Linked DNA regions of Homo sapiens: all the other regions are linked to region 2. The links come from fine-mapping of genetic effects on gene expression. A gene starts in region 2. Each other region holds a variant in brackets. All regions are shown on one strand. Distances are from middle to middle.

Evidence for each region. PIP is the estimated chance that this variant, and not a neighbour inherited with it, causes the effect.
Region 1: its variant is fine-mapped to the expression of MTUS1 in whole blood (INTERVAL, PIP 0.92).
Region 3: its variant is fine-mapped to the expression of MTUS1 in subcutaneous fat (GTEx, PIP 0.99). The same link has a PIP of 0.9 or more in visceral fat.

What each region holds. Positions count from the first base shown.
Region 1 is chr8:17,697,739-17,706,159 of GRCh38, reverse strand. The region is part of intron 6 of MTUS1 (microtubule associated scaffold protein 1); the gene reads left to right. Among named protein-coding and RNA genes, the nearest start is that of MIR548V, 20 kb to the right of the region's middle. The variant C/T (reference allele first, on the strand shown) is at 4,130.
Region 2 is chr8:17,797,425-17,803,951 of GRCh38, reverse strand. MTUS1 (microtubule associated scaffold protein 1) reads left to right here and starts at 2,858. Exons shown (of 15, transcript NM_001363059.2): 1 at 2,858-2,891. MTUS1-DT (MTUS1 divergent transcript) reads right to left here and starts at 2,610. Exons shown (of 3, transcript NR_186403.1): 1 at 2,210-2,610. RefSeq lists silencers at 2,255-2,444, 2,485-2,544, 2,625-2,744.
Region 3 is chr8:17,643,032-17,651,452 of GRCh38, reverse strand. It overlaps MTUS1 (microtubule associated scaffold protein 1), which reads left to right. Exons shown (of 15, transcript NM_001363059.2): 13 at 1,491-1,607; 14 at 4,374-4,471; 15 at 5,314-7,651. The coding sequence ends at 5,527. LOC124901891 (a long non-coding RNA gene) reads right to left here and starts at 4,374. Exons shown (of 2, transcript XR_007060834.1): 1 at 2,901-4,374; 2 at 1,496-1,890. It overlaps PDGFRL (platelet derived growth factor receptor like), which reads right to left. Exons shown (of 6, transcript NM_001372073.1): 6 at 8,309-8,421. The variant C/T (reference allele first, on the strand shown) is at 3,465.

The sequences.
Region 1 (8,421 bases), 99 kb after region 2:
TTATAATTCTAGGGGCTTATTTTTAGGGTTCTTTTCCAGGAAGTTGAATTATTTTAAATCTCTAAAGCAAGCAGGAAAGACTGCTTAAAGTCAAGAACCAACCTCTTGGGGTCTAACTGTTGTAATTTATTTAAACGTTATGACGCTGCAAGATTGTAGTTGATATTGACTCTAAAAAAAATCTTGGCTTACTGCTGATAAGGAAGATGTCACACATACCACAGAATACTATTATTACCTTGGTTCTACCATACACTAAAGCCACTGGCATACCAGAGGCATCAGAGCTGTATTTATCCAGTACCCTGATTGGTTTACACAAGATCATCACTCTCAGGTGCCAGAGTGTCTGCCTTGGAAGGTAGAAAATGCACTGGTCCTTCCGCAGTTACTTAGTAAAGACATCACAGGAGAACAGGGCGGCTTTCTTGCCTTCTTTTGCCAAGTGCTGGGAAGTGGTTGCAAGTTGCAAACCTGCTGATGAGGTGATGCCGAGGCTGCCAGGGTTTCTTCTGGTGAGAGTAGAGAGAAGGCTGTTTTTTCACTGTTGTTTTATGATTAACATAACTTTCCCCCTATACTTAAAACACAGATGCTCTTTTCATATGGGATACATTTTTGTTTCAAATTGGTGTTGGGGGTTGTGAGGAGTGGATCATTTAGTAAATCTTCTTGAGACAGTGACTACCTTTTTAGCAGGAGCTAGATCTTTTTCACATATATACAAAGTATTTCAGATAAATTAGTTTTAAACACACAAAGTAATTAAAACACTAAGAATATAGACTTAAGTAGAAAAGATCTTTCCAGGAACACTAGTATAATAGAAACGATTAATAATTAGGACAACAAAAGCTTTAAAAAACCTTAGAAACAGGCTGTGCATGGTGGCTCACGCCTGTAATCCCAACACTTTGGGGGGCCAAGACAGGTGGATTGCTTGAGGCCAGGAGTTCAAGACCAGCTTGGGCAACGTACTGAGACCCCATCTCTACCAAAAATACAAAAAAATTAGCTGCACGTGGTTGTGCACACTTGTAGTCCCAGCACTCATGAGGCTGAGGCAGAAGAATCGTTGAACCCAGGAGGCAGAGGTTGCAGTGAGCTGAGATTGCACCACCGCACTCCAGCCTGGGTGACAGAGCAAGACTCCGTCTCAAAAAAAATAAAAAGAATAAAAATCATTAGAAACAGTATTTATAAGCAAAGAACAAACTGAGGTTATATTAGCACATACTCTGTGTAGAGCTCTGTCAAATCAGCAAGATAAAGACAACTCTATAATAGAAGCTAAATGGACATACCACCCAAAGAGATCTACAGATTCAGTGCAATCCCTATCAAAATCCCAGTGTCATTTTTTTAAAGAAATAGAAAAAACAATCCCAAAAGTCATATAGAATGACAGAGGACTGCAAATAGCCAAAACAATCTTGACAAAGAACAAAGCTGGAGGCATCACAGTTCCTGATTTTAAAGTATATTACAACACACAGTAATTAAAAGAGTATGGTACTGGCACAAATATAGAAACATAGACCGATGGAATAAAATAGTCTAGAAATAAATCCGTGCATATACGGTTAGCTAATCTTCAGCAAGTGTGCCAAGAATACACAATAGGGAAAGGATAGTCTTTTTGTAGATAGTACTGGGAAAACTGGACATCCACAAGCAAAATAATGAAATTGGACCCTTATCTCACACAGTACACAAAAATCAACTCGAGATGGATTAAAGACTTAAATATAAGATCTGAAACTATAAAACACCTCAAACAAAACATGGGGCAAAACTTCATGTCATTTTTCTTGGTATGACACCAAAAGCCCAGGTAACAAAAGCAAAAATAGACAGGTTGGAGTACATCAGATTAAAAATCTGCAGAGCAAAGCAGTCATTTAATAGCATGAAAAGGCAGCCTATGAGATAGGAGAAAACATTTGCAAACCATACGTCTGATAAGGCGTTATTTACCAAAATAATTGAAATCAGGATGTTGAAGAGATACTTGCATTCCCATGGTCTGTCGCCCCCAATATTTCAATGTAGGTTATTTTTGTTTCCTGTAAGTGTTGGCCGGTCTGAGAAATAAAGAGAAAGAGTACAAAGAGAGGAATTTTACAGCTGGGCCTCCAGGGGTGACATCATATTGGTAGGTCCGTGATGTCCACCTAAGCCGCGAAACCAGCAAGATTTTATTAGGGATTTGAAAAGGGGAGAGGGTGTATGAACAGGGAGTACGTCACAAAGATCACATGCCTCAAAGGGAAAAAGGCAGAGCAAAGATTACATGCTTCTGAGGAAACAGGACCAGAGCAAAATCAGAAACTCCTGATAAGGGTCTATGTTCAGCAGTGCACGTATTGTCTTGATAAATATCTTTACAGAAAACAGGATTTGAGAGCAGAGAACCGGTCTGACCTCAAATTTACCAGGGTTGGTGTTTCCCAATCCTAGTAAGCCTGAGGGTACTGCAGGAGACTAGGAGACCAGGGCGTATCTCTCTCAGTCCTTTTTTTTTTTTTTTTGAGACAGAGTCTGGCTCTGTCACCCAGGCTGCGGTGCAGTGGCGCGATCTCGGCTCACTGCAAGCTCTGCCTCCCAGGTTCACGCCATTCTCCTGCCTGGGACTACTAACTGGGACTACAGGTGCGCACCACCACGCTAGGCAAAGTTTTTACATTTCTAGTAGAGACGGGGTTTCACCATGTTAACCAGGATGGTCTCGATCTCCTGACCTCGTGATCTGCCCGCCACAGCCTCCCAAAGTGCTGCGATCACAGGCGTGAGCCACCGCACCCGGCCAAGCTATCTCCACCGCATAGGACAGACACTCCCAGAGCGGCCGTTTATAGACCTACCCCCAGGAATGCAATTCTTTTCCTAGGGTCTTAATATTATATTCCTTGCTAGGAAAAGAATTTAACGATATCTCTCCTACTCGCACGTCCATTTATAGGCTCTCTGCAAGAAGAAAAATATGGCTGTATTCTGCCCGACCGCGCAGGCAGTCAGACCTTATGGTTGTCTTCCCTTGTTCCCTAAAATCACTGTTATTGTGTTCATTTTCAAGGTGCACTGATTTCATATTGTTCAAATAAACATTTTGCAATCAGATTGTTCAGTTAATGCAATCATCACAGGGTCCTGAGGTGACGTACATCCTCAGCTTACAAAGATAACAGGATTAAGAGATTAAAGTAGGACAGGCGTAAGAAATTATAAGAGTATTTTTAGAGAAGTGATAAATGTCCATGAAATCGTCACAATTTATGTTTCCTCTGCCGTGGCTCCAGCCGGTCCCTCCATTCGGGGTCCCTGACTCCCTGCAACAATGGTCATTGCCACATTATGATAGCCAGGATGTGGGAACAACCTAAATGTGTCCATAGGATAAAGCAAATATGGCATATATGTGCACTGGAGTATTATGCAGCCTTTAAAAAGAAGAAAGTCCTGCCATATGCTGTGATACAGATAAAGCTGGAGGACACTATGCTAAGTGAAATAAACCAGTCATGGGGCAAATACTGTATGATTCCACTTATAGGAGGCATCTAACATAGTCAAAGTCAGAAACAGAGTAGAGTGGTGGTTGCCAGGGAATGGGAACTTGATGTTCAATGGTACAAGGTTTGTTATGCAAGGGCGAAAAGGTTTTCGAGATGTTTGTTACAGCATTGTGCCTACAGTTAACAATATTATATTGTTCTTTTAAAATTTTGTTGAGAAGGTAGATCTCATTAAGTGTTCTTGCCACAATTAAAAAAACTAAACAAAAAGAAAGGGAAAAATAAGTGGATGGACAGAAAAGAAATATATGAAGGACTAAGGAATATATGAAAAATGTTTACCAAATATGAGTTAAAATAATGTGCTCTCAGTTCTTGCTTATTTCTTAATGTTAGCACCTGGTACTGGCGAAGAATAAGAAACAGCACTCATATGTACAGCTCCTTGGTAAATTACAGCAGCTGTAGCAGAGAGCAAACACCTTCCACCCGGGAATTCTGTTTTTCAGAATTGGTCCTAGGAAAGTAATTTATTTACTTATTGACTGCTTTTCAGAATTGTTTACAATGGGGGAAAATTGGAAACAACCTATATACCTTACAGGAATTAAGTT[C/T]GTTGACATTTTAAAGACATTTTTGAAGCCATTAAAATAACAATATAAATGCTTATTTAATCCCATGGAAAGATAAGTGTGAAATTTTTAAGTTTAATAAGTTTATTAAGCTTATGTTAAGTTTAAAAACAAATTGGAGAGCAGTCTGATGTGTAAGTAATTTAAATTGAAAAGAAAATTCTGGCCGGGTGCGGTGGCTCACGCTTGTAATCCCAGCACTTTGGGAGGCCAAAGCAGGTGGATCACAAGGTCAGGAGATTGAGACCATCCTGGCTAACACGGTGAAACCCTGTCTCTACTAAAAATACAAAAAAAATTAGTCAGGCGTGGTGGCGGGCGCCTGTAGTCCCAGCTACTCAGGAGGCTGAGGCAGGAGAATCACTTGAACCCGAGAGGTGGAGCTTGCAGTGAGCCGAGATCACGCCACTGCACTCCAGCCTTGGCGACAGACCGAGGTTCCGTCTCAAAAAAAAAATTCTACGATGAACATATGAGGTTTTGTTTTTTAAAAACAAACATTGTACATGAATTAAAAGCATTACTGCTTTTAATTTAAACTCTTATTTTGCTTATTGCAAAATAAAAGGCAATGTCACTGTTCTTTGAGAGCTTATCATCTTACAGGTGGGTGGAAGTTGATTGTTTTTCTAATTGCTTTGTGTTAATTTTTTGATAATTACAATTTATCTTCGTACTGAGGAAGAGGATAGTGTGGAAAAATTGGGCCTTAAGTTGAAGTTTCTACAACTGGAATAGAGAATTGAACTTACTACATTAAAGACTGTGAGGAGTAAAATGAAGAAAATGTTGCAATTAATGCTGTGTTAGGGAAAGTAAGGAGATAAATATAAAGATTAATATTCCATATTAGGCTAAGGAAGATTGGTTGGATAGAGATGCTTGAATCTCCACACAAGTCACTTGGTTTAAATTTTAATCTTCTTCCTCATTCTTTATGATCATTAACAACAACAAACAATAACAGATAAATTGAAGGCATTTTGTAGCATCTAAGCACCCCATACAGATTATGCTAGATTCTTGTCTAGAATCATGACATCATTGTTTTCTAAATCACTGATTTAAAAAAACACATTTCTATGCAGACCAGTGGAATTTCTGTTTGTTTGAATATACTGTGATATTACAACATACTGACTTATGAAACATTCTGTATCATCCTCTTTTGTTATTTAAGCCTTAGTATAGACTTTACACATCGTTTATTTTTCTTTGTGTCATTATGAAAACTCGGCTCATTTTGTAGGCTTTCTATAAAATTATTCTAACACTTAAACTTTTTAATTTTTTTCTGGCTGCATGATTTTTGAAAAAAAAAATTAGGAAAATACAAAAACATATAATAAAGAAAAAATAGAAATCCTCCCTCTTCTACCTCCCAGAGCATTGGTGACATTCTGGCATGTTTGCTCCAATATACTTAATCGTTTTTGTTTAATGTTGAGATCCTACATTGCATAAAATTTTAAATCATGTTTTTGTTTTCCACTGACATCCTAACACAGGCTCTGCTTCATAAAGACTCATCTTTTTTTTTTTTTTGAGGAGTTTTGCTCTTATTGCCCAGGCTGGAGTGCAATGGCACAATCTCTGCTGATTGCAACCTCCATCTCCCAGATTCAAGCGGTTCTCCTGCCTCAGCTTCCTGAGTAGCTGGGATTACAGGCCCCTGTCACCATGCCCAGCTAATTTTTTGTGTTTTTAGTAGAGACGGGGTTTCACCATGTTGGCCAGGCTGGTCTTGAACTTCTGACCTCAGGTGATCCCACCTGCCTTGGCCTCCCAAAGTGCTGAGATTACAGGCATGTAATCTCACCACCGCGCCCGGCCCATAAAGACTCATAGCTAACTTTTACAACTACAAACTGTTGTACTTTAGGCACTAAAATTTCCTTATTTTTTCCTCTACTGTCCTTGGTGATGCCTATCTTTTCCTCTTAAATTAAGACTTTTAAAAATAACAAAGATGCTTTTTTTAGGTACTTCTCACATTCGTTCAATTTCAGAAAATATGGAGTTCCTAACTGGTAACAGATGATCAAATAATCAAAGAATTTTTTGGAACCAATTTTTTATCTTGGCTCCCCCCAGAGGCATATATAGTATAAAAATAGTTGTGACCTGAAAGTAATTGCTTATCCAGTTATTTAAATGAGCAAACGTAAAGTGTGTAAGAGAGTGCTTGGAGCAGTAGATTGTAAGCGATGGCCATTTGTTTATGGACTGCCAAGGCAGCTCCCTTGCTTTGGTGCACTTGTGCTGCACGGCCACCAGGAGGCAGACTATGTTTGGGAAAGAACTGAATTTAGTTTATTCCTGCAGCTTCTTGCTCTGCTGTTAAGAGATATCATTAACAATGTTTATTTTCAATATGTGTGGTTATAGCTTAATGTAATTCAAGTAAAAATGTTAATGAATCTGATTAATCGATGATTAGATGGTAATTTCTTCTTTTAGGGAGTCTAAAGAACTTCCCTTTTAACAAGGATAATTTAAGGCTGGGCGTGGTGGCTCACCCCTGTAATCCCAGCACTTGGGAGGCCGAGGTGTGTGGATCACCTGAGGTCAGGAGTTCGAGACGAGCCTGGCCAACATGGTGAAAACTCATCTCTACTAAAAATACAAAAATTAGCCAGGCATGGTGGCGGGCACCTGTAATCCCATCTACGGAGGCTGAGGCAGGAGAATCACTTGAACCCGGGAGGCAGAGATTGCAGTGAGCAGAGACTGCGCCATTACACTCCAGCCTGGGCAACAAGAGTGAAACTCCATCTCAAAAAACAAACAAAAACAAACAAAAAAGGATAATTTAGAATTTGCTGTTACTGAAGAAACAACAAACACAACCAAAAGAAAGAAAAACCACCTCCTACTATATGGAGTGGTGGCATGTCTGTTTTTAATCATGGCAAAATTTGACTCTGTTCTTCTGTTTGTTTTTAATGCTGATTGGTTTCTTGGTTTTTACAAGGTTTTGGGAGGTAGAGGAAAAGGTTCTGGTATATTTTTAGTATGTAGAATCTGGAAGGAAAAGGTGTTCAGGTTTTTTAATAATAAACTGGGATGAAGTAAAAGGCAACACCTAGAAGCAGCTGGCCTTGATTTTAATTCCTTGATCATTTAGCTTCAGTTGCTGTGGTGCAATGTATGTAGCAGGTTTTTCGTCAGTGTATGAACTAGGTGTATCTTTCTCACAGGAACCCTGGACAGGTTATTGGGTCTGTCTCTCTTGCTGACAACCTCTAAAATGGCAAGTTGGGGGCTTGAGTGAAGAGGGAGGGGGCTTGAGGGAAGAGAACTTATTTAAATTTTCTCTTCCTCCCTCTCTCTTCCCTGCTTCATACCCTACTCTATAGAATTTCTAAAAGAACTGCTTCCTGCTAGTTTTAATAGCACTTAATAGTGTTATTTATGGTAACAATTCTGCATTTATTTCTGAGTCTTATTTTCTAGGAAATCTTGGAAACAGGCATAGGACATTTTTAAAACATTGTTTTGTTTATAACATTTTTAAAAATGTTAAGAGCTCAGGCTATTCGTGGTTTAATGGAATTAGCTTAAGTGGGCATATTGTTGTTGTTAATTCTTATAACCATATCTTTGTTTTTCAAGTTCTTTTGGTTTTGCTATCATGTTTTAACATACTTTTACAAGCCACTCTACTGAAATAAAAATTAGTAGATAACTGGCAAAAGATATTCATAACTGTGCCCTCCTCACACTCCTAGTCTTGAAAGACCACTATAAGAGACCACATGATGTTCTATAAATGCAATTACTCATGCAATAAATGTAGTCTTTAGAATATGCCTATCTGATGGACTATTCTTCTGGAACTCTGATATTACATCTGATAGAGAAACCGTATTAATCTTTTACTGTTGATTATTTGTGAGGTCCTCAGCATGTGGGAATTAAAGTTGAACTTTAACCTTTTGACAATCTGTCATTAATATATTAGAATAGAAATTTTCTTAAATATTGTAGTTGAGAACATTTATTGCCTGAAGTCTTTAAAAAAAAAACTTTTCCAAAATACCAGGTTTAAATGTAGTTTACATGTAAAATATCTAGAGAAAAAATGCTCATGTTATCATTGTGAATATAAGGAGTGAAAAATGTTAAAATCAGGACACAGTTTACTTTCAGGAAATCCTAATTTTTTTCTAATTATGAAAGAAACATTAGGCACTTGAAGTAGTTAATTTCCCCTAGCGATCTTTCAAGTGGTTACAGGATCTGTGACATTATTGGTTGTTCTGTAAAGCTCC
Region 2 (6,527 bases):
ATCAGTCCTTTACTAAAGAATATTTGTATTTGAAATATATCTTATTATAAACAATGCTGAAATAAACAAGGTTGTAGATACATACCATTTCTCCTGTGTGTTGTAAGATAAACTCTTTTTTTTTTTTTGAGACAGAGTCGCGGTGCGTTGCCCAGGCTGGAGTGCAGTGTCACAATCTCGGCTCACTGCAAACTTCGCTTTCCAGGTTCAAGGGATTCTCCTGCCTCAGCCTCCCAAGTAGCTGGGATTACAGGCGCCTGCTATCATGTCTGGCTAATTTTTGTATTTTTAGTTGAGACAGGGTTTCACCATGTTGGCCAGGCTGGTCTCCAACTCCTGACCTCAGGTGATCTGCCCGCCTCGGCCTCCCCAAGTGCTGGGATTGCAGGCATGAGTCACCGTGCCACCACGCAGGGCCAAGATAAACTCTTATACGTATAGTTGCAATATTGTTAGGTATCCTGACCTTCCCCCTAGGGAGGTCATTATAATTTACATTTACATTTTCATTGTGACTGCTAGTCTACACTTTTACCAACACTGTGATTATCAAACTTTCTAATCTTTGACAATCTGATAAGTGAAAAAATGGTTTCTCAATACAGTTGCAATTTGCATTTTCTTATGGAGGAAAAAAAATTGAGCCAACTTTTTTTTTTTTTTTTAGAATAAAGAGCCACAAAGTTATGTGAGTTATTATTTTATCCTTAATATTGCTCCTGGAGTCTGTAGCAGGTCAGCATCAGAGTTCAGAGATCAGGAACATGGCAACATGCCCAGAACCAAGATGAAAAGAAAAGCCAATAGGCCCCATTTCATGAATATTTGCCTTGAGGAGTCCCTGAAGATGTCCCTAGAAGTTAACTTCTGTTTTTATGTGGAGACAATTAGAAGCTAAGTTTCAGATTCCCCAATGCCTGCGTAAGTAGCTCTAATTACTTAGCAGAGCATTGTATGTTTCCCCCCTTCAAACCACCTGACACAAAAATGAAGTAAAACAGGTTCTATATTTATAGATATAACTAAGCCACACAATAGGATTGTGGGGTTTAGACCAAATCATCTAGGTCACATCAGGGTTATAAAGATTAAATGATATGTTTCACACAAGAACTATTCTGCTTAGGGATGGAGGCTTGTTGCTAATTAGCATAATTGCCTCGTGACTTGCGGAAACTATGTCAGCGTTTTGTTTTGTTTTTGTGTGCTTTTTCAGAGGGAGACTCATCTGGTGGTGTTAAATACTATATCTATTTAAAATTAATCACATGCCTTTCCTAACAACACGGATCATGCTAGTTGCATCTATCTTTACAACAGGGATTTCTGAAGCAAATGAGAGGTGTCATTATGTAATGGAATTAAAAGAGAAGATTAGGAGTTAGGCTGGCTGGGTTTGCACTTGCCCTCACTGGCTGTGTGACCTTGCGCTAGTCACTTGACCTTTCTGAGCTTCAATTCCTCATTTGAATAATGGAGATAATCTGACCTATATACCCCTGGGTTTTGTAGTCAGGAAATAATGGATCATTGTACATATGAAAAGTCTTTACAACTATCAATGGCAAGACATCTGTCAGTTATTCTAATATTCATGGTATAGAAAACTGTGAAATACAGAGTCCTTACGTCTATTCTCCAAAAAAGTTCACTTCTCTTTAAAAGCTTTTAGCAAACCACAATCCAGGTAATTAAAAAGGAAATATTAAAATTTTGTTCTCAGGTTGTCTGACATTTCACGGTTCAGCAATGTGACATCTCTCACAGGCAGAATAGCATCTTCGGACAAGTTTTCTATTAAAAATATGCTTTATAGAAGAAAATATTTTACGGACCTAGAAGACAGCTGTCGATGAAATTTGCTCAGTTTAGCAAACAGCAAGGACTGTGTTTGTGTTTAGAGAAAAGTAGGTCGAGCCTAGTTTATCTCCCTGGGGTTCTAGACTCCTTTCCACGTTGTATCTCAAGCTCTAATAGCTGGAAAGCTACTTTCTTTAACCTTTAATACACACTTGCTAGTAAACTTGCTAGAAGCATGAAGATAATACAGACTGCGAATCAGCCCTTCTAAGAGACAATCACGACTCCTTCCTTGCAAGCTTCCGCCCTGATAATTCTGCAACCTTCCCACCTTCTATACGCCCCGCGGTGCGAGGCCCCTCGGCCTGCAGGTGGCCAGAGGCAAGCAGGAGTCAGATCCCCCACCTACCGCGGCCCGGCCTGGGCCCTAGCGCTGGGTGCGGCGGAGCCCCGGGCTCCTGCGGGGACGAGCGTGGTCCCGGGACGCGCGGTGCAGCCAGGTGCGCCGGCGGCAGTGGCAGCCGCTGAGCGCCGCGTCGCACGTGGCAACAGGTGCAGCGCTGTCCCGGGCTGGCGCCGGGGGGCGTGGGGCGCGTCCGCACTTAGTCCGGGAGCGCGCGGAGCGTCGGGATTGGGACCCGAGAGCGGGAGCGGAGAGCGGGAGCGCCCGAGCGGAGTCCAGCGCCCCGAGGTACGGCCTCGCACGTCATTCAGGTTCCCCGAGGGCCGTCCCCTGGGACGGCGGCTGGCCTTGGTCTCCCGCAGCGAGCCGCTGGAGTGGAGCCTTCGGAAGGAGCCGCCCCGGGTTGGGGCGGGAGGCCCGAGTTCGGCTATTTACAAGTTTCCCGAACTCCCCGCCCTGCTCCACCCCCTGGCGGCCCCGGAGGCGGGGAGGCGGGGAGGCCGGGGCTCCGGGTCCCGCCTGGTAGCCGCCGCAGGCGTGGGGTGGTGCCGCGCCGCGCGCCCCCAGGTGCAGACGCCGCCCCCGAGACCTCCGGGGCGGGTTCTCGGCGACCCCGCCAGTGGTGCAAAGGGCGCCAGCCCTCCCCGCCTCTGCGTCTTTGCTCCCGGAGCGCTTGAAGGAGCTGCGGGTAAGTGCGCGCTGGAATCTGTTCCCGCTGCCCGGCGGCCGGGGTGGGGAGGGGACAGGCGAGCGCGCCGCCCAGGGTGACGGGACCGGTCCTCGGGGAGGGGAGGGGGCGTTCCAGGGGCCTGGGGGCCGAAGCTGAGGGCTAAAGGGGGCGGCAGCGCCGGCGGAGCGGAGGCGGGTCTCACGTGGGCCAGCGCAGAGCCTGCGGAAGGGACGGATGCGGATCTCGTCGCTGTCACCTTGAAAGTGACCGAGGGGCTTGACTGTGGACTCCTTACGCCGCCCACCCGGGCCCGGCGGTCCCAGCCTTCTCGCAGGGCCCCTTCTCAGCAGAAGCAAGCGGGGCCGAGAAAGCGGGTGGAATAGGGTTGCTGCAGGTCCCAAAGACCCCTCGTGGCGCCTCGCTACTTTCTGCAGCTTGTTTGCACTTTTTCACGCTCTAGAAAAATCTCATCTTAATTAAGGTGACCTTATTGACTACTCTATAGTGCTTAGTGGACTTAGGTGTTCACTGAGGAACGTTTTTGTTCTTTTTTGAAGACGTACTCCTTTCTACCAAGTTGTTTGTTGATTTTTGACTTGGAGTAATTTGGGACTAGGAAGGAAGAGGTTAATTCATTTAGCCTGCGTAGTTACACATACTCTGTTAAATACTGTTTGTTTGAAGTAGTCAGTGTTCTAAGAAAGGAAATCCAGTGTGTTTTGTTTGTTTCAATGAAACCAAAGTCTTAGGCAAAACGGTGCGTGGAAGCTTTCAAGTTTTGCCAGGTGCAGGTGATCGAAAGTCAATCATCACTAAATCACAGCGCTGGGGCTGGAGGGTGGGAGTAGGGGTGTTACCAGTGAATTTCAGGAGGAAGGGAGGCAATGCAGGAGGGAGGGGATTAAAAAAGAGAGTCATTGCTTCCTGGGAACCAGTGACCTCTTTAAGGAGGGTATATACAAGATAACAGTGCATGGACAACTTTAAAAGGAATTGCATAAACGGAATTGCAATTCTGTAGACAGTTTGCTTTTTCAGGGATGGTTAGGGCAGGAAATGATACACAACTTAAAATGGTGATGTCCTGTTAGTACAGTGCTTTACAGTGTAGAAAGTGCTGTTACAGATTTTTTTTTTTTCATAGGCAATATATTCCATTAGGAAAGCTATACAAAGAAAAGATTAGAACTACATGCTTATCCTTAAAACCAAAGCTAAAAAACCTTAGAAGTGGAATTTAGTTTAAAATAATATGTAGTTATTTATGTAACTTGCACCACGTTTTTTCACCTGTTCTTTTTAAAATCAGGTTTATGAAGAGAAAATAATTCTTGGTAAATCTGCTTGGTAGAAAATCATGCTTGGAACAAGACCTTTTAATTATGTCAATAAGTCAAGGTTACATTTTGGAGTATAATAGGATTATAAGATTCTAGATAATATCTTATATTTTTTGGAAACTAACCTGCAGTTATTACACTCAAGCATTTAAAAAGCCTGTTACTTAATAGCCCTGTTCTGTTAACCCTGTTTGTTTTGATTTCAAAAGTAATCCGTGCTTGCTGTATAAAAATAGGTAGATTGAGAAAAGTGAGTTAAGCAATTTCAGCAAAGATAATCACAGTTAATATTTAAGAAAATACTTGTTAATATATAGAAAAATTTTTTATAGTTATATAGTTTATCTAAATATACTATTGCGTGGAGGTTTTTTCCTGATTAATGTATCATGAAAAATTTTCCATGTCATGAAATCTTCAGAAATCTTAGTGGCTACTTAATATTACATTACATAGATGTATCAAACTGGTTTTCATTTATTTCCACTTACTAAATATACTTTTGCAACAAATACGTTTTTAAAACTTTATGTGCAGGGTTAATATCCTTAGTGCCCTTGAAATACAGTTGATGGTTGGAAGATCTCCTCATACATATTGACCATTTGCTTTCCAAAAAATGTTTAACCAAATTATGTTCCCACCAGCTCTCTGTGAGAATACTGGTGTTACCGTATTCTTGTCAACATGTAGAATCATCCTTAAAGGGAAAAAAAAAAAATTCTTCCCAGGTTTATAGGTGAACAGTGCTTTCTCTATATTTAAACTTCAATTTCTTTGATTACAGATGATTTGAACACCAAAGAAATCTAGTTGTTTTCCATTTTGAAATTTGATGTAGTGCCAGATTTTTCTCCTGGGATATTAGTATTTTTCCATTAATTCATAAGAGCCTTTTATGGATTGATAGTAAATCTTTGCCATTCATATTGCAGATACTTTTCCCATTTTATCTTTGCTTTATATATTTACAGTAGTTTTGACATACACAAATTTCTTTAATGTTGATAAATCTGTTGACTTTCTCAAAACAGAATTTTTAACACTTCTAAATCGTAGCTTCAGAACTATATGTGACTGTGGTAGAAGATTTAAAAAAAATTTTCCAGCCGGGTGCGGTGGCTCACGCCTCTAATCCCAGCACTTTGGGAAGCCAAGGCGGGCGGATCAGGAGGTCAGGGGTTCGAGACCAGCCTGGGCAACATGGTGAAACCCCGTCTCTACTAAAGATACAAAAAATTAGTCAATTGTGTTGGCATGGATCTGTAATCTCAGCTACTTGGGACGCTGAGGCAGGAGAAGCGCTTGAACCCGGGAGGTGGAGGTTGCAGTGAGCCGAGATCACTCCAGTGCACTCCAGCCTGGGCAACAGGGCAAAACTCCATCTTAAAAAAAAAAAATTCCCCAAATTCTAAATTAGAATCTTTTCAAATTCATTGCAAGAACTTCCATATCTTGGGTTAGAGACTGTTGCAAAACTAATTGCATTTGTTGATGAGAAGCCACTGGGCCTGGTATATACTATTAGGAACAACATCCTTTGAAATCAGAGCAGAAAGTTTTAAATCCCTAAGACTGAATGTTTTTCAGATCTGTTATTCTGTGATTATACAAAGTAGGCTCACACTCCATTTATTGTCAGTAATCTATTTGTAGTATCATTTTGCCAGATTCTTCTTTTTATAGTCATTATTGTGGTTTCATACGGACTTGTTGATGTCCAGACAAATGTACTGCATACGTAGTTAAAAAATTTCCTGGATTAATTTCCAATACTGCTACTCAGCAAAGTATTTATTTGGGGGGGCGGGGGAACACGTCTTCCTGATATCTCAAAGTTGGGTTCTTTCTCTGTGTTGTGAAAGCTTGAATATACCCTGAAAGTCCTCACTAAAGGAAGTGTGTTCTCCATGAGAGCCTGAGTCCCTTTTATTCCCCAAGCTTAGAGCGTAAGAGTAAGCGATAGGACCATATTTGAGCCATAAGGATGAAATTGGAGTTCAGGATCTGCGTGCTTAGGGGCACTTAAAAATGGCCTCAGACTTTCTCTGGAAGAAGGCAGGCCCCGGAGGGAGGTGACCACTTAGCAGCGGATACAGTGGTGACTGTGGCCTCCTGAGAAGGAGGATGAGCGATCCCACCCACAGGAAATGAAGGACTAGATGGGATGGTATGAACTCAGCTAGCTTGAAATCTGGCCCCGAAAAGCCTACTTTGACCAGGGAGACTTTATACCTGGTTTTGGATGGTCCAGTATAACCAGGAGTTGAATTTGACTTGTAATTTCTTCTAACTTTTTATTTTATTTTATTTT
Region 3 (8,421 bases), 150 kb after region 2:
GGGTACGTGTGATGTGTTGAGACAATCATAGACTGTGTAATGCCCAAGTCAGGGTATTTAGGGTATCCGTCATCATTATCATTTCTTTGTGTTTGGAACATTTTATATCTTCTCTTGTAGCTATTTTGAAGTACGCAATATATTATTATTAACTATAGTCACCCTACTATGTTCTTGAACACTAGAACCTATTCCTTCTGTCTAACTGTATGTTTGTATGCATTAACCAACCTCTCCTCATCCCACCCCACCCCACCTCCCACCATACACACGCATACCTCTCCTAGCCTCAGGGAACTATCTAAAGAACCTAGAATTAAAGATGTATTAGTCCCTGCCCTGACCCTTTCCAGCTCTGGAAGCTTTCCTGATCTTTCCTGAGTAGGGCGCTTAACCCGTGGAACACGTTTCCTCTTTCTGTGTGAAGTAAGGGGTTTGGATTAAGTAATCCCCGAGGCCCCTTCCTGGATTCTCCCTAAGGATTGGTCCAGAGCAGAAACCAATGCCCCGGAAGATAAGCTTGATGACCACACCACCGACTCTTACCTAAGACGTTGCTTCATTAAACATATCTGATCAGTGGACCATATGCTGTTCTTCTGTAGCATAAATTTTGAATGGTTTAGTTGAATTTCCGAATAAAGCAAGGAGTGGGTGGGCGGTGGTGGGAAATCCACACTGATGGTGTGCTCTCAGAGGACGCCTCCCCTGATGTAGCATTTATTTTGGAGAGTTTTGTGTTTTTGAGACAGGATCTTGTTCTGCCACCAGGTTAGAATGCAGTGGTGCATTCACAGTTCACTGCAGCCTTGACCTCCTGGCTCAGTTGATCCTCCCGCCTCAGCCTCCTGAGTAGCTGGGACTGTAGGCATATGCCACTATGCCTGGCAAACTTGTAATTTTTGGAGAGAAATTTAAATAGGCTGTGTACTCCATGCCGTGTAGGTACTGGGGTGTCACAATAGAAAATGATAGTATTATGTCTGCCCTAGAAGTATGGCCCAGTCAACGTAGCCCCATCATAACAAAAATCCAAACACTCAGGACATTGTTATCCCTGTTGTTTTCCAGAGAGCCGTATAATGCACTGCTTTTTCTTTCCTGATCAGTTTGTTTGGTAGGAGAGAACTGTTGTTCCCTGTTCTCCCAGAAAATGCCAATAACTGACTCACAGATTGCCTCATCTCCAGCCAAGATTCTGTTTTGTATGTAAGCAAAGTTTTTCTCTTGATACAATAACATGTTTGATGCAACTCACATTTTTGCATATTAAGTTACTGATAAATAAGTGAAATGTTTGCTTTCAGTATTAGGACCAGTCTTCGACATTAAGGTGCTCTTGTTTTTCACCTCTTTCTTTGAAATTGCTCTAAGATGATGAACATCTGTCGCTTGCTACTTGTCTAATGTCTCAATCTAATCAAAGATTCTTTCTGTTAAGAATTTGAACTATGTGGAATAAGAGCAGTATCTTGCTGTGTCCTTTCCAGAAAAATCCTCAGATCATGTATCTAGAACAGGAGTTAGAAAGCCTGAAAGCTGTGTTAGAGATCAAGAATGAGAAACTGCATCAACAGGACATCAAGTTAATGAAAATGGAGAAACTGGTATGTTTCCTTCAGAATGAAAGAGGATCTTACAAATGGGGTAATATGTGTGAAATTGAGCCCTGCATTTTAGAACTGTGGAGTTGGGTTAACTGCTCCTAAAGATATTTAGAAATTATACAAAAGATAAAGTTCACATTTTCTTTCCAAGTTTGTTCCATATTTATTCATTGCTGCCTCCTAGAATGTTTTCTTTTTCAAGGAACATGTAAAACAGCACCCAGTCCTTGGAAAAACTACAAACAAATCAGGCTTATATTTCAGTGGTATTTTGGATCTTCACCTGCATAAGAAAAATGTTTAAATATCTATGTAAAATCAGTACTTTAATATACCAGCCACCCTGGACAGGTTTCTTAGATCCAAAACAGTTGGATACGTTTAATAGAAATGAATAGAAATGAATTTAATAGAAATGAATAGCAATACTATTTATCAAAATTCTTCATCTTGCTTCTTGTGAATTAGCATGTGATAAAAGAATCGTGGGCTGGGCGCAGTGGCTCATTCCTCTAATGCCAGCAGTTTAGGGAGGTTGAGATGGGTGGGTCACTTGAGGTCAGGAGTTCGAGACCAGCCTGGCCAACATGGTGAAACCCTGTCTCTACTAAAAATATAAAACTTAGCCGGGTGTGGTGGTGGGTGCCTGTAATCCCAAGTACTGGGAAGGTGGAGGTTCCATTGAGGTGAGATGGCACCAGTGCATTCCAGCCTGGGCGACATAGCAAGACTCCATCTCAAAAAAAAAATTGTGCTATAATAAGATTAATCCATTTGGACAAGTAGCAGGTGTTACCAAAAATATGAATTAACATTCACTTTGCAGTGTCTAGAACAGAGAACGATGTTAGTGTGAGTGGCATGTTCAGTGTTCAGCGTCAGTCTTGGCCCGGCCCTGAAATACAGCTGCTGCCAGCCAGGACTCTAACCAAGTTGGCAGAGTTTGGCAAGGCAGCTTAAGTGATCCCCGCCCTCGCGGTGCCTTGCTGTTGACTGTCCAGCTGCCGCATGCTACTGGCCTCTTCTCCCCACAGTGATGAGTGACTCAGGCTTCTACAAGTGCCTCATTCAAACCCAAACCAGCCCTGGACAGTAGGGGACATGGGGGACCTCTCTGCTGCTTGGTTTGTGTTGGTTTGGCGTTTGGTTTTCTTCTGGAGACTATGACTTCTGTTGAGGGAGATAACGGCCAAGCCCCTGTGTGGATATACCAGCATTTTGAATTATCAGGAAATTTTTGTAAAGGAAGGAAAGGAACTCATGGTTGTTAATGGGCCAACCTAGTATACATACCAGTTCCTGCCAAAGGTCGTCCTGTTCGACTGAGTCTGGTATCTTCTAATCTGGTAGTCAGGGATGACTCAGATGATCCTGTTAATAGGACTGCTCCATATGCCATTCATGCATCAAAACTTTCAAAAAATCATGTGCAATAAATCAGACTTTGCTGTAAACTTACCAACACATTTAATTTCTGATGATCTACTATTTGTTTCTTGCCATGCCCCAGAGGTATCCTGATAATATCCTTCAGCCTTGCATTGTGTATGTGTGCAAGAATGAGTTGATACAATGAGAGGGAGACCCACTGTTCCCTTCATATTTGTAAATTACAGGCCTCTGATGAAATTAAGAGACTTAGAAGCACAGGAAGTTTTCTAAGAAAGACAGCTTTCCCATGAAACCGGCACTGCCCATAATCAGCTCTGTGACATTATTAGGACTAGTTTCCCTAGGATGAGATATTTAAAGGACAATACCTCCCAATCTCAAATTCCAGGTTTTTTTCCACGTTGTTTTATCTGGGAATCCTTCATAATTACTGAACGTAGACTCCTTTTCTGGAAAGTGATTTAA[C/T]CTGAACAGGTTGTCCTGAGCTGCTTCTGGATAACAGGATGTCTTAAGAACAATCAGGTTCCAAACTAAGCAACATACTCAAAGCGCGTTAGTCCTGCTACAAGGACAAGGACTTAGACTTAATCCTGACGGAGCTATAATATTGCCTCTTCATAAAGCCTTACCTTTAGAAAGTGAGTGGGGGATGGAATCAGGTCTTCATCATGTTAAGTGATTAAATGTCCTCAGGCATCTTATCCTTTCATCTCTCCGCTGATCAGTTTGTTTGCCTTGAAAGTTCAGCCTGCACAGGGCAGCAAGAGAACAGACCTATCTATCTTCAGCTGACCTGAGGAGACTCGTGGCATGTTACTTCTTTGATGGCATGCTCTAAGAGCTCTATCGAATTGAAGCTTTGTATGGCCACTCAGACGCAAATGCTGAAAACTTACCATGAAACTGAGTTCAAGTCCATAGTAAACGTTGCCAGGGACTGTGAATTGCTGGCCTGTGAGTTTTCATCAGATGTGGGAATCTTTTTTTTTTTTTTTCCAGCAAAATTCACCGTAAGGAGATAGATAAGCTTTGATAAGTGTGGGCAGTGTGTCTGCAGGGTTTATTTCACATTGAAACAGAAAGAGGCACCAATTCTTAGAGAATTCCAAAACAACATGACCTGGAACAAATCTGTTACCCACTCGTATCAATATTTAAGTGTCCTGGCATACATGTTTTAAAAATACCCAGCCGCTCTGTTTTGCTGTTTTAAAATCTTTTTCAGTATGTTTGTTAGTGTATAAATATTTTAATATGGAATTGCATTTTCCTTAATTAAATCTCCAAAGTGTGCTTGTGTCGTGAGGTGCCTTAAGAAATGAGGGGTTTTTTTTTTAATATTGTATAAATGTTGGAATTCTTGTTTATGCCAAGGTGGACAACAACACAGCATTGGTTGACAAATTGAAGCGTTTCCAGCAGGAGAATGAAGAATTGAAAGCTCGGATGGACAAGCACATGGCAATCTCAAGGTAAAAATAAAACAGTGCTGTTTCTCCCGAGCTCCCCGCTCCCTTGGACATCCAGTGTACTTTCTGGACACGCTCTACCCCTGCACCTCCTGGAAATATGATGGAAGCAGATGGTTAAAAGGGCATTGATTTCTCTGTGGAAAATATGATTGTAGTAGTTCATGCTTTTACCAAAGCGGCCTGAAAACTGTACACTGAGACCCAGGCCAGCAAGCCTGCTCCCACGGCCTCTGGCTGCCTCTGAGAATGCTTTCAGACAAAGAGCAACACAAAACCAAATAGAAAACAGCCTGCAACATAAGGTAGTCATAAAACATGTCGAATATTTGCAAAAGTGGCTCTCAGCCTACTATGAAATTGCCCAAAAAGTACAGTTATTATTATATATTTTTTTGAGATGAGGTCTCACTCTTCTGCCCAGGCTGGAGTACAGTGGTGTGATCTTAGCTTACTGCAGCCTCCACCTCCTAGGCTCGAGCAGTCCTCCCACCTCAGCCTCCTGAGTAGCTGGGACTACAGGCACATGTCACCATGCGTGACTAATTTTTGTATTTTTAATAGAGACAGAGTTTCGCCATGTTGCCCAAGTTGATCTTGAACTCCTGGCCTCAAGTTATCCACCCACCTTGGCCTCCCAAGGTGCCAGGATTATGAGCTTGAGCCACCACGCCCGGCCTGTGTTTGGGTTTTCTTAGCCAGCCAAATACCTGTGACCTTGTGCAGGATTCTGTTTTATCCCAAAGGAATAATTTTGGACTTTAAAGTTTCAAACGCTAAGAAAAATTTTTCAAGTTTTTTTTTTTTTTACATAGATCTCATGGTTTCTGGCCTTTTTCTTCAAGGCAGCTTTCCACGGAGCAGGCTGTTCTGCAAGAGTCGCTGGAGAAGGAGTCGAAAGTCAACAAGCGACTCTCTATGGAAAACGAGGAGCTTCTGTGGAAACTGCACAATGGGGACCTGTGTAGCCCCAAGAGATCCCCCACATCCTCCGCCATCCCTTTGCAGTCACCAAGGAATTCGGGCTCCTTCCCTAGCCCCAGCATTTCACCCAGATGACACCTCCCCAAAGTCCACAGACTCTCTGAAAGCATTTTGATGCAGGTCTGCAGGACTGACCCCAAGGAGGAACGTGGGCACAAGAGGTATATCAGCACACGTGTGATCACCGTAGGGTAACTGGAGCGTCACCACCGGCGGAATCGCAGCTTCTGAGACTGGAACTCTGGAGGAAGACTTTTGCCTCCGTCCAAAAGATTCCTCCAAAAAAAGATTTAAAAAAAGATTTCGGCATCGACACGGACGTTGTTGCACAAAGCACTTAAAGAACGAGAGCATCTTGTTCATTGCCTTTTTCACCTAAGCATAGGGGGAAAAACTCTCAGGGCCCTATTAAGATTTATAACCTTTGTAATGTTCTTCACCACAGACACCTTCTTGTGAGTTTTCAGTCTGACTGTGGGGGTGGGGGGTGTGAATGAAATGGATGTCACAGAGTGTCATGTGTCTGATGCAGCCTCCTCTGCTGTGTATTAAATGTCAAAATCTGAATATATCTGGATATGTACTAATCAAATAATAATCAATCAATCAGCATATACATTTCAGCCAAAGCCATAGAAGAAAAAGCAATAGTTGCTTGAATTATGATCATCTACCACCAACTCTGCTCAGCCCTGTAACAGGGTAGGGAGAGGGTATAACAGGAAGAGCTTTGACTTGTCCCTGTCTATACATTCTCTGTATCTTTTGGGGGTAACTTCTTGGCAGTTTTTCAGTGTTCAGCCATGTCAGTTGAAACTAGATTTTTCTGTAGATTTTTTACTTACCCATGTGAGCCTAACACTATCCTGTAATTCATTTTCTCAGGCTATGTGTAAATGTAGAACCCTAATTTTTCTATAAAAAAACAAACTAACTAACTAACTGTGTAAAGAAAGAAAAAGGGAAGTACCAATGGGTTTTTCCACCTTATTTTTACCTTTGATCTACCCTTGCAGATTTAACCTGTCTTCTTCCCTCCCATTATTCTCATTTTCCTTTTACCTTTCTCCACCATCCAGAGCCACAAAAGCAAACCTTCTACCTCCTACCTACTTTTCTCTGGGACAAGGATAAAGGAATATGATTTTCCAGAGCCCCAGAGCCAGCTCATCTTCCAGGTGCTGAAACCACTTTCCAAATAAACTAAAGCCTGGATTTGATATTACAAATTTTGGGAAATCTTAGAATAAAGAACGAGAACAAGGAAGTCATTGGCTAGTATAATTAAGAAAGGTAGGATTCAGTGCTTACCGATGATGCAGTACTTGATAGAAGAAAACAGTCTGGGAGGATAGCGCTCATTTTTCAGTTACCCTTTAAGGAGTCCCTTTGTCTTTGGGAAAGTAGCAGAATGGTCCGCTTCTTTCCCATGAGTGGAAAATGTGGCTTGTCCAACTCTCCTCCAGGTTGCATTTCAGTTTCTTTCCAAAACTTATTACCTCCCCTAATCCTGAGACTTTGGAAAAGGTGGAAGGAAGAACTGTTGCTTTATCTCCCCCTCCCTGCATGTGTCAACATTGTGATGTCAGTATTTACTAATCTACATTCAGTGGCTGTACAAATAACAGCTGTAGTAAGAAGAGATTCAGGATGCTAGAGGTGAATATTTGGGTCATTTACATGTACACTACATAGCAAGTTGATACTCATGTTGCATGTTCTTTTAAATTAGTGATTTTGTGTCTTAAGTCTTTAACTTCCAATACTTCATCATGTATGTAACCTTCCATGTTTGCTTCTGATAAATGGAAATGTAGGTTCACTGCCACTTCATGAGATATCTCTGCTCACGCTTCCAAGTTGTTCTCAATGACATTAGCCAAAGTTGGGTTTGCCATTCATCCCCTAGGCATGGTAAATCTTGTGTTGTTCCCTGCTGTCCTCCGTATTACGTGACCGGCAAATAAATCTCATAGCAGTTAATATAAAACATCTTTGGAGGATGGGAGAGAACAGGAGGGAAGATGGGAAACAAAATAGAGAATTCTTAAGATTTTGTTTAAACCAAATGTTTCATGTAGAATGCAAAATGTTGGCACGTCAAAAATATGAATGTGTAGACAACTGTAGTTGTGCTCAGTTTGTAGTGATGGGAAGTGTATTTTACTCTGATCAAATAAATAATGCTGGAATACTCAAGAATTGCATCCTCTGACCTACTTCATTCTTCAAATTCTTCATTTTTACAGCCCTGTGACAGCACAGTAAAGGTCGTATCTCCTCTTAGTTTATATTTCCCAGGAATTTCCACTGCAACCGCAGAGTTGGTCATGGGCTCACAGAGCTAGAGTGAGAGGTAAGCTCTTCTTCTCTAAATTCAAAGCTATCTATGTTTGACAAATAAATTTTGGCTGGCTGTAACAATTTCTGCTGTATAAGAAAATTGGACAAACTTGGTAAATATTTTTGAATATCGTAAAAAATGTCTAAACAAAGTTGAATGTTCTTAATCTATGCATCTATTTCATATTGAAAGCTAAACTTCTAAAAACTTGTTCTAGTTATTGAATAGACTAATCTACAATTACACCTTTGAGTGCAGCAGTTTAAAAAAATGAAGTGTCCTTGAATTTTTTCAGTACCTTCATAAATTAACTCACATTTGTTAAAGTTGCTACTAAGACAAAATGACATTTCTAAGCATTTGAGTCTGGAGTTGTTGCTTGTGGGTAAGTAGTTGAACTGTATCTAGTACATTTTAAAATTCTAATATATTGCGGTGATATAAAAGAGAATACTTGGTATTGACCCACGTATCACCACCACCAAGTCTTTCTGGATGTATTTTAAGTCAACTTAACTTAAAAAACACTTATCCCACTTTTTATTTTTTACAAAAACGTGCTCATTTAATAGAAATGATTGATTATATAAAATTGTTTACACATGTATAAAAACTAGGAACACGT